Linked DNA regions of Homo sapiens. The protein of the gene in region 2 purifies or fractionates together with the protein of the main gene of each other region. This does not show direct contact. Each region holds a gene or a part of one and is shown on either strand. Other genes may lie near its edges.

Region 1 (3,500 bases), on a different chromosome or scaffold from region 2:
GAAGGTAGAATAGTGAAAGTGTACTGGCTTATGAGGTATCTAAACATACCACTAAGTTTCTGGCAGACAGATCAAAGCAACAAAATACATACAGTAGTTGAGTAACAAATCTCTCATATGTTTAGTATATGACATAGTTCACATTTCAAATAAGTGGAAAAAGAATGCAAAACAGATACCCAAATCACTGTGATAGAAAATTAAAGTATCCATACGGAAAATAAGTTAGATTTTGCCTCATGTCATACCTACAAATAAATTCCAGATAGATTAGTATCTCAATGATAAATGCACAACATAAGGAAATACAGGAACCTAAGTAATCCCAGGATCATGAAGGCCTTGCAACATATTAAGAAAACATTAATACCTAAAATACATAATTATAATTTAATTAGAAAAAGACATCCTAGTTAAAACAGAAACAAAAGCAAAAACAAAAAAGCTAATTCACAGAAGAGAAGCCTGAATGACCAATACATATGAAAAGATGCTCAAAGAATGATAATATCTAGTGCTACTGAGAGTATGGGAAAACCAGCCCATCACAGCCTATTGGTGTAAATCATTGTTTTGGTACAATTAAGTATATAAGGATATTTAATTTTTACACACACAGTCTTCCAACAGTTTGTAAAATCAACATAATGGGAACAACTCCTATGTCGTCAATACAGCAATGGTTAAATCAATGTAGGGTTTATGTACTCCCAAGAAGGGATATGTATAAATGACAACCCATTAAAGAGCAGAAAATTTTATATTTGTATCTTATCCTTTTGAAATGTCTTTCTGCGTATTTCATAATGACTTAAATGACTTAAAAGTCATAAATGACTTAAAAATAGGTAAACACACAACACACTGGCAGGAAGTACGTGCTCAAATTATTTTTTACTGAGGGAATATACAACCAAAAAATTTTATAGATCACTGTTACAAAACATTGTATATCTACAAAATTAATGATTCAATTATTAAAAATATAAATGTTCCTATATGCATTGTTATAAAAAGATAATGAACAAGGCTAAAGAAAAATATTTCATCTAAAAATAATTATAAATAATAGTTTATGGTAGTACACAGAGAAGAAAACACTGACAGACTGTGCAGACTGCTGTTGTCTTTCAGAGTCGGGATCATAGGACATGGTACCTTTCTGTTTTATGTACTTTTGCAACTAACTTATTAATTATATGGTCAGAAGAAAAATTCCTTCAAGAGACTTCAAAGTCCTTTAACTTCTTGGAGAGCCATCTAAAAGGATGCTCAGTAGTTTAATTGTTAATAATGAAAAATTAGAAATCACATAAATTTCTACCAAGAGGATTATAATAATGTTATATACAACAGTAATTTATATCATATAAATTAAGTCATTCTTAAAAGTGGAGTTTTGGCCGGGCGCGGTGGCTCACGCCTATAATTCCAGCACTTTGGGAGGCCGAGGCGGGCGGATCACAAGATCAGGAGATCGAGATCATCCTGGCTAACACGGTGAAACCCTGTCTCTACTAAAAGATAGAAAAAATTAGCCAGGCGTGGTGGCGAGCACCTGTAGTCCCAGCTACTCGGGAGGCTGAGGCAGGAGAATGGCGTGAACTCGGGAGGCGGAGCTTGCAGTGAGCCAAGATCCTGCCACTGCACTCCAGCCTGGGCGACAGAGCAAGACTCCGTTTCAAAAAAAAAAAAAGTAGAGTTTTAGGCCAGGCACGGTGGCTCACACCTGTAATCCCAGCACTTTGGGAGGCCGAGGCAGGTGGATCACCTGAGATCAGGAGTTCGAGACCAGCCTGGCCAACATGATGAAACCCCCATCTCTACTAAAAATACAAAGAAATTAGCTGGCGTGGCGGCGGGCACCTATAATTCTAGCTACTCAGGAGGCTGAGGCAGAAGAATCGCTTGAACCCAAGAGGTGGAGGTTGCAGTGAGCCGATATCGCGCCACTGCACTCCAGCCTGGGCAACAAGAGTGAAACTCCTTCTCGGAAAAAAAAAAAAAAGTCGAGTTTCGAATAACATAGTTAAAAACATGAGATAAAAATTATAATACATATATGCATCTTAGTATGATCCTGAATTTGTGAAGATAAAAAAAGAAAAAACAACTGGAGAAATATGTACATCAAAATGGTAACAACAGTTATATCTAAATGGTGGCATTAAAGGTAATTTTAAAATTCTCTGTAAGATTAAAAATTTTTAAACTTTTTCTTAAGATTAATTTATATACTATAAATTTCACCTTTCATCTGTTTTAACTGCATATTAAATGAATTTTAATATGCCTGCGAGTCCGACCTCTGGGGGATAGGAGACTGAATAGCTAATTTCAGTCACAGCTGACACCTCAATAAAACCTGGTTACCAAGGCTTGGTGGGCTTCCCTAGATGGCAAGACTTAGCATGTATTGCCACATATCACATCAGTACTGAAGAATTAAATGCACCCCCTCTCCCCCTGTGGGACTCCCTGGGAAGGGGACACCTAGAATTTTGTGTCTGGTTTATCCTACACTTCATTCTATATGTCTTTGTTGACTTTAACCTATATCCCATTGCTGTAATAAACTATGACTGTAACAAGCATTTTTGAGTCTTATGAGTCTTGGCCCAATCATCTAACCTGAGGATGGTCTTGGGGTCCCCCAATACAACATTATGCACTGAAATAAGACTCAATAAAATAAGAAGTCTCAGCTGGAGTGGCAGCTCACGCCTATAATCCTAGCACTAGGCTGAGGGCAGGCGGATTGCTTGAGCCCAGGAGTTCAAGACTAGCCTAGGCAGTATCGCAAAACCCCGTGTCTATACAAAACTACAAAAATTCGCTGGGCGTGGTGGTGCACACCTGTGGTCCCAGCTACTTAGGAGGCTGAGGTGGGAGGATCAAGAACCTGAGAGGTCGAGGGATGGGGGCAGTGAGCTATGATCAAGCCACTGCACTTCAGTCTAGGTGAAAGAGACCCTGTCTCCAAAAAGAAAAAAAAAGTCTGAATACATACAGAAGAATCTTTATGATGAGATTTATATCATGCCAATCTCAGCATATTTCAACATAAGAAAAAAATGGAAAATACATTCTTTCAGGATATTGCTAAATGAACAAATTATCACGGCTCTACCATATTCAAGACTACTAAAATGTCAGTCAAACTTACCAACGGGTACGAATGGTGCCTCTTTAGCTTTTCGAATGAGTTTTGATCCCTGATCTTCCTCATATGAAGGAAGGGAAACACCTGTGTCTGTTGACATAGTGATTGCTTGAAGAATCTCCCTGAGAAAGAATTTCTATGAGGTTCTGTAATTAAAAGCATCTGAACATTATTAAATATCTGGATGTATTTAAAATATTCCTAACTTCCATGAGAATCTTAGTATATGTTATCCATAATCCTAAAGTTAAAAAATATTTTTAGAAATTAACTGTATTTTTAATGTACAGTCACTCTCAAGGGAGAGTTGTATACACTTATTCCCCCTATTATTTTG
Region 2 (3,500 bases):
TGGGACCCATGCCATGTTCATTTCACTTCTTCCCATATTTTTCGTGTTTCTTTTGGTAAAATTATAATGGCTTTCATTTTGTACTTAATATCACACACGTAAACCATCCATCATTTGAGCTTTATTGTAGCTTATCAGTGATAAAAACAGGCAGTAACTGCCATTGTTTGTTTGTTTTCCTAGTAAGGCCTGAAAACAGACATTCTTTGTTAAGAAGGTGTACAATGTAACATATTTACTAGTATTACATGGATTATATATTTCTTAAAGGGAAAAAATTTGAGAGTATCATGGACTACCACCAGCATTGTTATTACAGTAGTTGCTCAGATTTGGTTAAGGAAGCCCAATCAATGTATAGTGAAAGTATTATTATATCTCTGCTAAGATTCAGATATTGTTTCAAAAATCTCAGCTCCAATAATTCCACACACCTAAAAACAAGTGTTTATACTCATCTAAGCATGAAATTGTCCCAAGTAAGTGAGGATATTTCAGTAATGTGAAAGATACTTTCATGGAAGGTATCTGTTTTATACCAGTGGGTGGGGTGGTAGAATTGGGAGTATTTCTACAGTTATTCTTAGATGATTACTGAAATGCCCCATCTCATTTCTATTTAGGAAAGGAAAAATCAGTTTCATACTACTGTTGTCACCTGTCAGAAATGTTCACTTTATTTTGAGTTAAATGTTGCTTTAGAAGTTTAATCTTGAATTCCTGGTGACCACATGTTTATATCTGGAAAACTTGTGGAGAGTTATCATCTGCCCTTTCCCCCACTTTTTTTTTGGTTAGAGCTTCTGTTTAGATGTGTAAAGACAAATATTCTTAAATGATAATTTTACTATTTAGGAGGGAGTTTTTGTTGAGGATATATTTGAAGATTGGCTTTTTCATATTGTCTTTCATTCTTTGGCCTTGGCAAAGTGTACAGTAGATTTTCATGATCATTGCATACTTTTTGTCATTGAAATATATCTTTTATTTTTTAAATGCATTCATTTTACAGTTGTGACTTTATCATTGACTTTAAGAGGTAGAAACAAAAATGAAAATTAAAGTGAAAAAAACATACAGAATGCCTACAAATCAATCAAGACAAATAACCTAATTTAAAAATGGGGAAAAGATGTGAATAGGTACTTCACAAGACCCCTTCCAAAGGGCTAATAAAAATATTAAAACACAACCTCAGTACACTAGCAAAGCAGGGGGCTGGTGAGGATATCGAGGAACTATAACTCTCATAAATTGCTGATAAGAATGTAAATTGGTTCAACACTTTTGCAAAGCTGTTTGGCAGTATCTACTTTGGCAGAAACATGTCTACCCTACAATTTAGCAATTCTACTCTAGATATATGTGCAAAAGAAATGAGTCAATACATCCAGCAGAAGACTTATATAAGGATTTCACGGCAGTTTCATTCAGAGTAGTTAAAAACTGCAAAAAATCCAAATGCCCATCAAAGGAGAACAGATCGATAAATTGTGTTATATTTATACAATGAATGTTAAATAGCTTAAAAAAGAACAGACTACCAATACACTAATACACACAACAATATAAATGAATCTCAGAAATTATGTTGAACAAAAGAAGCCAGATACATACAATAAACTACATACTCCATGATTTAAGAACAGACATACGAATCTATGGTGATAGTATCAAAATGAGGGTTATACCTCTGATGGAGAAACTACTGACTAAGAATTGACTGAGAAGGGGCCCGAAGGAATTTTCTGAAATGATAGAACCATATGTTGATCTGGATGGTGGTTACATGGATACATACACACGTAAAAACTCACCAAGCTATATACTTAGGATCTTAAGAGATATATACCTTACTGTATACAAGTTATAACTCAGTAAAAAAGAAAAAAGCCAAATTGCTCTGCATAAAGATGCATCTTACAAATTTTTTGTGAATCAAAGTCAAATGCAAGGAATCTAGTTTGTTCACCACTGCATACTTACTTAATGCTTAATACAGTGCCAGGTACATGGCAGACAGTACATACGTTTTCTTCACTTTTGTTTTTTTGGCTAGAATAGTGTAGCTTTTAATTCTACTTTTCCTATTTTTAACTGTAGTAAACTATACATAACATAAAATTGACTATCTTGACCATTGTTAAGTATACAGTTCAGTGGCATTAAGTACATTCATACTGTTCTGCAACCTTCGCCACCATTCATCATCCATCTCCATAGCTCTTTTCATGTTGTAAAACTGAAACTCTACACCCATTAATCAATAACTCCTCATCCTCAATCTTCCCCCAGTCCCTGATAACCATCACTCACTTTTTCTGTCTCTATGATTTTGACTACTCTAAGTACTTCATACAAGTAGAACCATAACAGTATTTGTCCTCTTGTGACTGGCTTATTTAGCTAATGTCCTGAAGATTCATCCATGTTGTAGCTTACGTCAAATTTCAAGACTGAGTAATATTCAGTCCATAAGTATTTTTGAATTAATAAATATACCATAACAGTAGTTTATACAAATTCCAAAAATCAGCCTCTTCTTTTCAAATATACCAGGAACTCCAAAAACTAAATATCTAAGACACAGGAAAGCTGACAGGAGGAATGAAATAATTATATTCAAGAATATGGCTCACCTTGTTTGGGTCAAGATTCCCCAAAACTGAACTGGCCTGGGGGCAAACTTCAGACAGTGAGCAACCAATCTTCATGATATCCTTATTTCTATTGATACTCTAGAAAGATTAGATATAGTATAAGATACAGTAAAATATTATTTTACAGTGTTACACGCTTGAGGGTTCTAAGCATGATAAACTTAAAAGATTTTAGGCCATTAGAAATTAAATCAACTTCTTATGCCTGTATTTTTTCATAATTTAAATGAGTTATTTATAAGAAATGAGACTAGGCCATAGAAAAAGTTTACTTCCCAATGTGTTCAAATTAGGTAGAATTCAAACAAGATACCAAATATAATTAAATCATATGGAAAGGATTCCTTAAAGATTGATTTGATTGCAGAGCTCAAACTGGGAAATAAAAGATGATCCTGGGACATTTGATGGTGCCAGAAAGTAAAGAAATGCTAAAAAAAAAAAAAAAAAAAAAAAAAAAAGCAGGTTGCGATGGCTCACACCTGTAATCCCATCACTTTGGAGGGCCGAGGTGGGAGGATCATTTTTGAGCCCAGGAGTTTGAGACTAGCTTGGCAATGTGGTGAAATCCTGTCTCTACAAAAATAATACAAAAGATTAGCCGGGCATGGTAGTGTGCACCTATAGTTCCAACTACACAGGAAGATGAGGTGGGAGGATTGCTTGAGCCCAGAAGTTCGAGACTGCAATGAGCCATGAGCACACTACTGCACTCTAGCCTTGGTGACGGAGACCCTGTCTTGAAAAAAAAAAAAAAAAAAGTGCTCAAAAAAAGAATAGGAGACGTTTAAGGACAAGTACCAATCTGTATTCTTTGGTGAACTTTGTCCCAATGGCCAA
Region 3 (3,500 bases), on a different chromosome or scaffold from region 2:
TTTCAACTATCCTCAACCTGCTGTTGACTCTTAGATCCTTATTTCTAGACCTGACCTCTCCTGAAAACTTATTCCAAATGTCTGCTAGACAAAATACTCTGCAGGCATCACACATACAACAAATAAAAACTTTGAACTCATTGTCTTTCTCTTCTTACCCCAAATTTTTCAACCTCTTTTATTTCCCAAAGTTTTAGAGGTGCCACCAGGTACCAGTTACCTGAGCCAAAATATAGGGGCCATCTTAGATTTTTTTCCTCTCCAACCAATCACCAAGATGGTCTGATTTTATCCAAGCCCCTCATCATCCTCTTCCCGTCTTCCTCCTCCCTATTACCACTACTTGAGTTCAGATCCACTTCATGACTGGTCTCTCTGCTTCTGATCTGTTTATCTTAAATCTATCTTCCAAAATGCTACCAGTGATCTGTCTTAAGCCCAGGGCTGACCATTCCTCTTTCCTTCAATGGCTCCTCATCAACTAGATCATGCTCTTTACATGATGTAACAGGTCTCCATGACCTAGACCCTACCTACTTTTCCAGCCTCATCTCTTATCATTTTCCACTTTATCTTCTGGTAAGAATGACCTCTACTGTACTTGTTCTTTCAATCCTCTACCCAGACATCATCTCTTTCAGGTAACTTAAATTCAGAACTTAACCAAATATAGTAGAATTATCTGTTTCCTAACTAAACTATGTATTATAGGATAGCTAGAGAGTGTTTTATTTGGCTTTGCACACCCAGTGTCCAGCACACTGTGAAGAACATCTACTGTTTTGGATATGGATATGACCAGCACCCATATCTCCTTTCTTTTGGTGGCAGGTTCTAGATTCTCCTTAGTTCATGTGACCTGGGTGCAGCTGCTTCCATCTTTTGGCTCCAAAAGTTGGCAAACCATTCAGATTTAGCTACTGAGAATACTAATACCCCTGTCCACAGAGTAAGTGGTGCATAGATTAAAAAGTAACCCAAGCCAGATCAATGGACATCAGTCTCAGGACATCTGGTAAAATTATCAGCAAAAAGAAGTGTTCTTTCAGTAAGAGTTACCGAAATGGAAAAAAGTCACCCACCCTGAAGCTGCCAATGGTCATTTTACCACCATATGGAAAAGCTTCCCTAAGAATGAAGCCAAAACAAAAAGGAAGCAAGCCGAAAGACACAGATAGGGATAGAGATAGGTTCCTGAATAGAGCCATGCCTGAAGCCAGTTCTGCTCCTTGATTTTCTATTTTCTTGAGCTACTGAATTCCCCTCTTTTAAATTAGTTTCTGTTATTTTTTAAGTTTCTTAACTTGAGTTTCTGTCATTTGCAAGTGAAAGAGTCCTGGTTTCTCAGAAACTGTTTATTACCACCTAGTTTATTAACTTTACATACACAGAATGTGTTCAAAGCTGTCATGAGGTAATAGGAATCCAGAGAAGACTTTGAGAGTCATTCTAACTGAGAAAACAGGTTTTATTACACATACAGTACTGGAGTTAGGCCTTGAAGGATCAGCAAGTGGGGCTACACCCAAGGCTACCCGAATGAGCTAAAGCAGACCTGTGTTCCCAGAATTTCACTGTAGGGTTCTTTCCCTATATCCTCCCACAAAAACATTCAGGAACAATCTAGCTCTGATCTATACCTTCCCATTACTTAAGCATTAACCTCTCAAATTCAAAACACCAAACAGCATGAACTATATAAAGGCTTGGAAACAGAAAAATGCAAAGTGTGTAGGCAAACAGTGAGATATCTAGCAAGACCAAAATATAGGATACTGGCATTTTACTCATTCATTTATTGCAAATATATACTAACACTGTGCCAGTGCTGGGGATTCAATGGTGAATAATACAAACTAGGAGTCTGCTCTTCTCTCTCCTAATAAGGCAATTAGCAAGCAAACAAACAAAAACATACATAAAGAAAATAAAATGGAGTAACGGTGGGTATGGGTAGAAGGTGGCTTGAGTTTGGGTGGTCAGGAAGGGTCTCTGAAAAGTTATGTTTCAGCTGAAATCTGAAGGAATTGGCCATACAAATAGTTAGGCAAAGAGAGTTGTAAGCACAGGGAAATCAGCTTGGTACACCTGAGAAACAGAATAAAGGCCAGTAAGGAAGAATATAGAGGATGAGGAGTGTGACAGAAAATTAGGTTGGAGTAGTGAGGTTTACAGAAGAGAACACTGAGAGATGAGGCTGGAAAGAATCATAACAGTTGACTAATAATACAAACAATATGTTAAATTCTTTGCAATATCTTTGAAGAGACAAATTGAGTAAAAAAATGAAGGATTAATTTATCAGAGATTAAAAAAGAAAAATGGAGAGTGATAGACCACATAAAAGAAAAAACGGATACCATAAATTTAATATACCCAAAGGAGATTTTTTTTTTTTTTTTTTGAGATGGAGTCTCACTCTGTCGCCCAAGCTGGAGTGCAGTGGCATGATCTCAGCTCACTGCAACCTCTGCCACACTGGTTCAAGCTATTCTCCTGCCTCAGCCTCCCGAGTAGCTGGGATTACAGGCACCTGCCACTGCGCCTGACTAATTTTTGTAGTTTTAATACAGACGGAGTTTCACCATCTTGGCCAGGTTGGTCTTGAACTCCTGACTTCATGATCTACCCACCTTGGCCTCCCAAAGTGCTGGGATTACAGGCGTGAGCCACCGCGCCTGGCCAGGAGATATTTTAGTAGGCATAGAGCATACCCAAAGTGACCTCTCTTGTAATAAATATATTAAGTGAAATCATCATGAACTATTGTGCCAACTCAAGGTAATTTATTATCCTTTCCCAAAATAATTAATGTCATCCACGACCACATTTCAGTCTGGAACTTCCCACTTGTTGAGATCTGCAGATCTCAATAGGTACCTTTGAACTTGGCTTCTCCAAAAGCTTATTTATTTCCAACAGAAAAATAATGAGGCCCACAGAAGAAAATGAATTTGCCCCAGGCCACACCACATGTGAGTATTAGAACAAGAATCAGAATCACAGAATCATATTCCCGGACTCCTAATTCAGTGCTCTTTCCCCTACATCACAGCCTGCCATATAAATCTTTTGAGGGCCAATGGTTAAGGCCTTGATCCTTAACCAATCTACATCTTAAGTCTCAATGCCTAAAATTTAAACAATCTGAAGATTGCTTTCAGAGAATGGCGAGAACTGCCAGACAGATAAGGAGTTACTGGCCTTACAAAAATACGTATTAATGTGATCTCTCATTAAGCATGTAAACTATGTCTTTTTCATGATTATTTCCCTAGCACCTAGCAAATTACTAAGCATAATAAAGGTTTATTGAACACATATGTATATTTATTGAACAGCTACATGTAGAGGACATCGGGCTGTCTTCTGTGGAGCCATCAACAGTGAGCATTTATTTACTATGAGCCAGGCCCTTTGTAAGAGCTATGTGTGTGAACACATTTAAACCTCACAGGAACTCTACATTATTACAACTCACCTCACAGATAGAAAAAAAT

What was found. Proteins that work in one complex are often made in the same cells at the same time.
Region 1: the proteins of STK31 (region 2) and HIGD1A purify together in Homo sapiens (affinity purification with mass spectrometry; one large-scale study listed by BioGRID and IntAct). This does not show direct contact.
Region 3: the proteins of STK31 (region 2) and FAM114A2 purify together in Homo sapiens (affinity purification with mass spectrometry; one large-scale study listed by BioGRID and IntAct). This does not show direct contact.

The regions. Positions count from the first base shown.
Region 1 is NC_000003.12:42,790,991-42,794,490, forward strand, and holds part of HIGD1A (HIG1 domain family member 1A, mitochondrial), read right to left. Parts: intron 3,310-3,500; exon of another isoform or gene 3,286-3,309; coding exon of another isoform or gene 3,264-3,285; coding exon 3,167-3,263; intron 1-3,166. UniProt on the Homo sapiens protein: Proposed subunit of cytochrome c oxidase (COX, complex IV), which is the terminal component of the mitochondrial respiratory chain that catalyzes the reduction of oxygen to water. May play a role in the assembly of respiratory supercomplexes.
Region 2 is NC_000007.14:23,716,719-23,720,218, reverse strand, and holds part of STK31 (serine/threonine-protein kinase 31), read right to left. Parts: intron 2,739-3,500; coding exon 2,640-2,738; intron 1-2,639.
Region 3 is NC_000005.10:154,004,411-154,007,910, forward strand, and holds part of FAM114A2 (protein FAM114A2), read right to left. Parts: intron 1-3,500.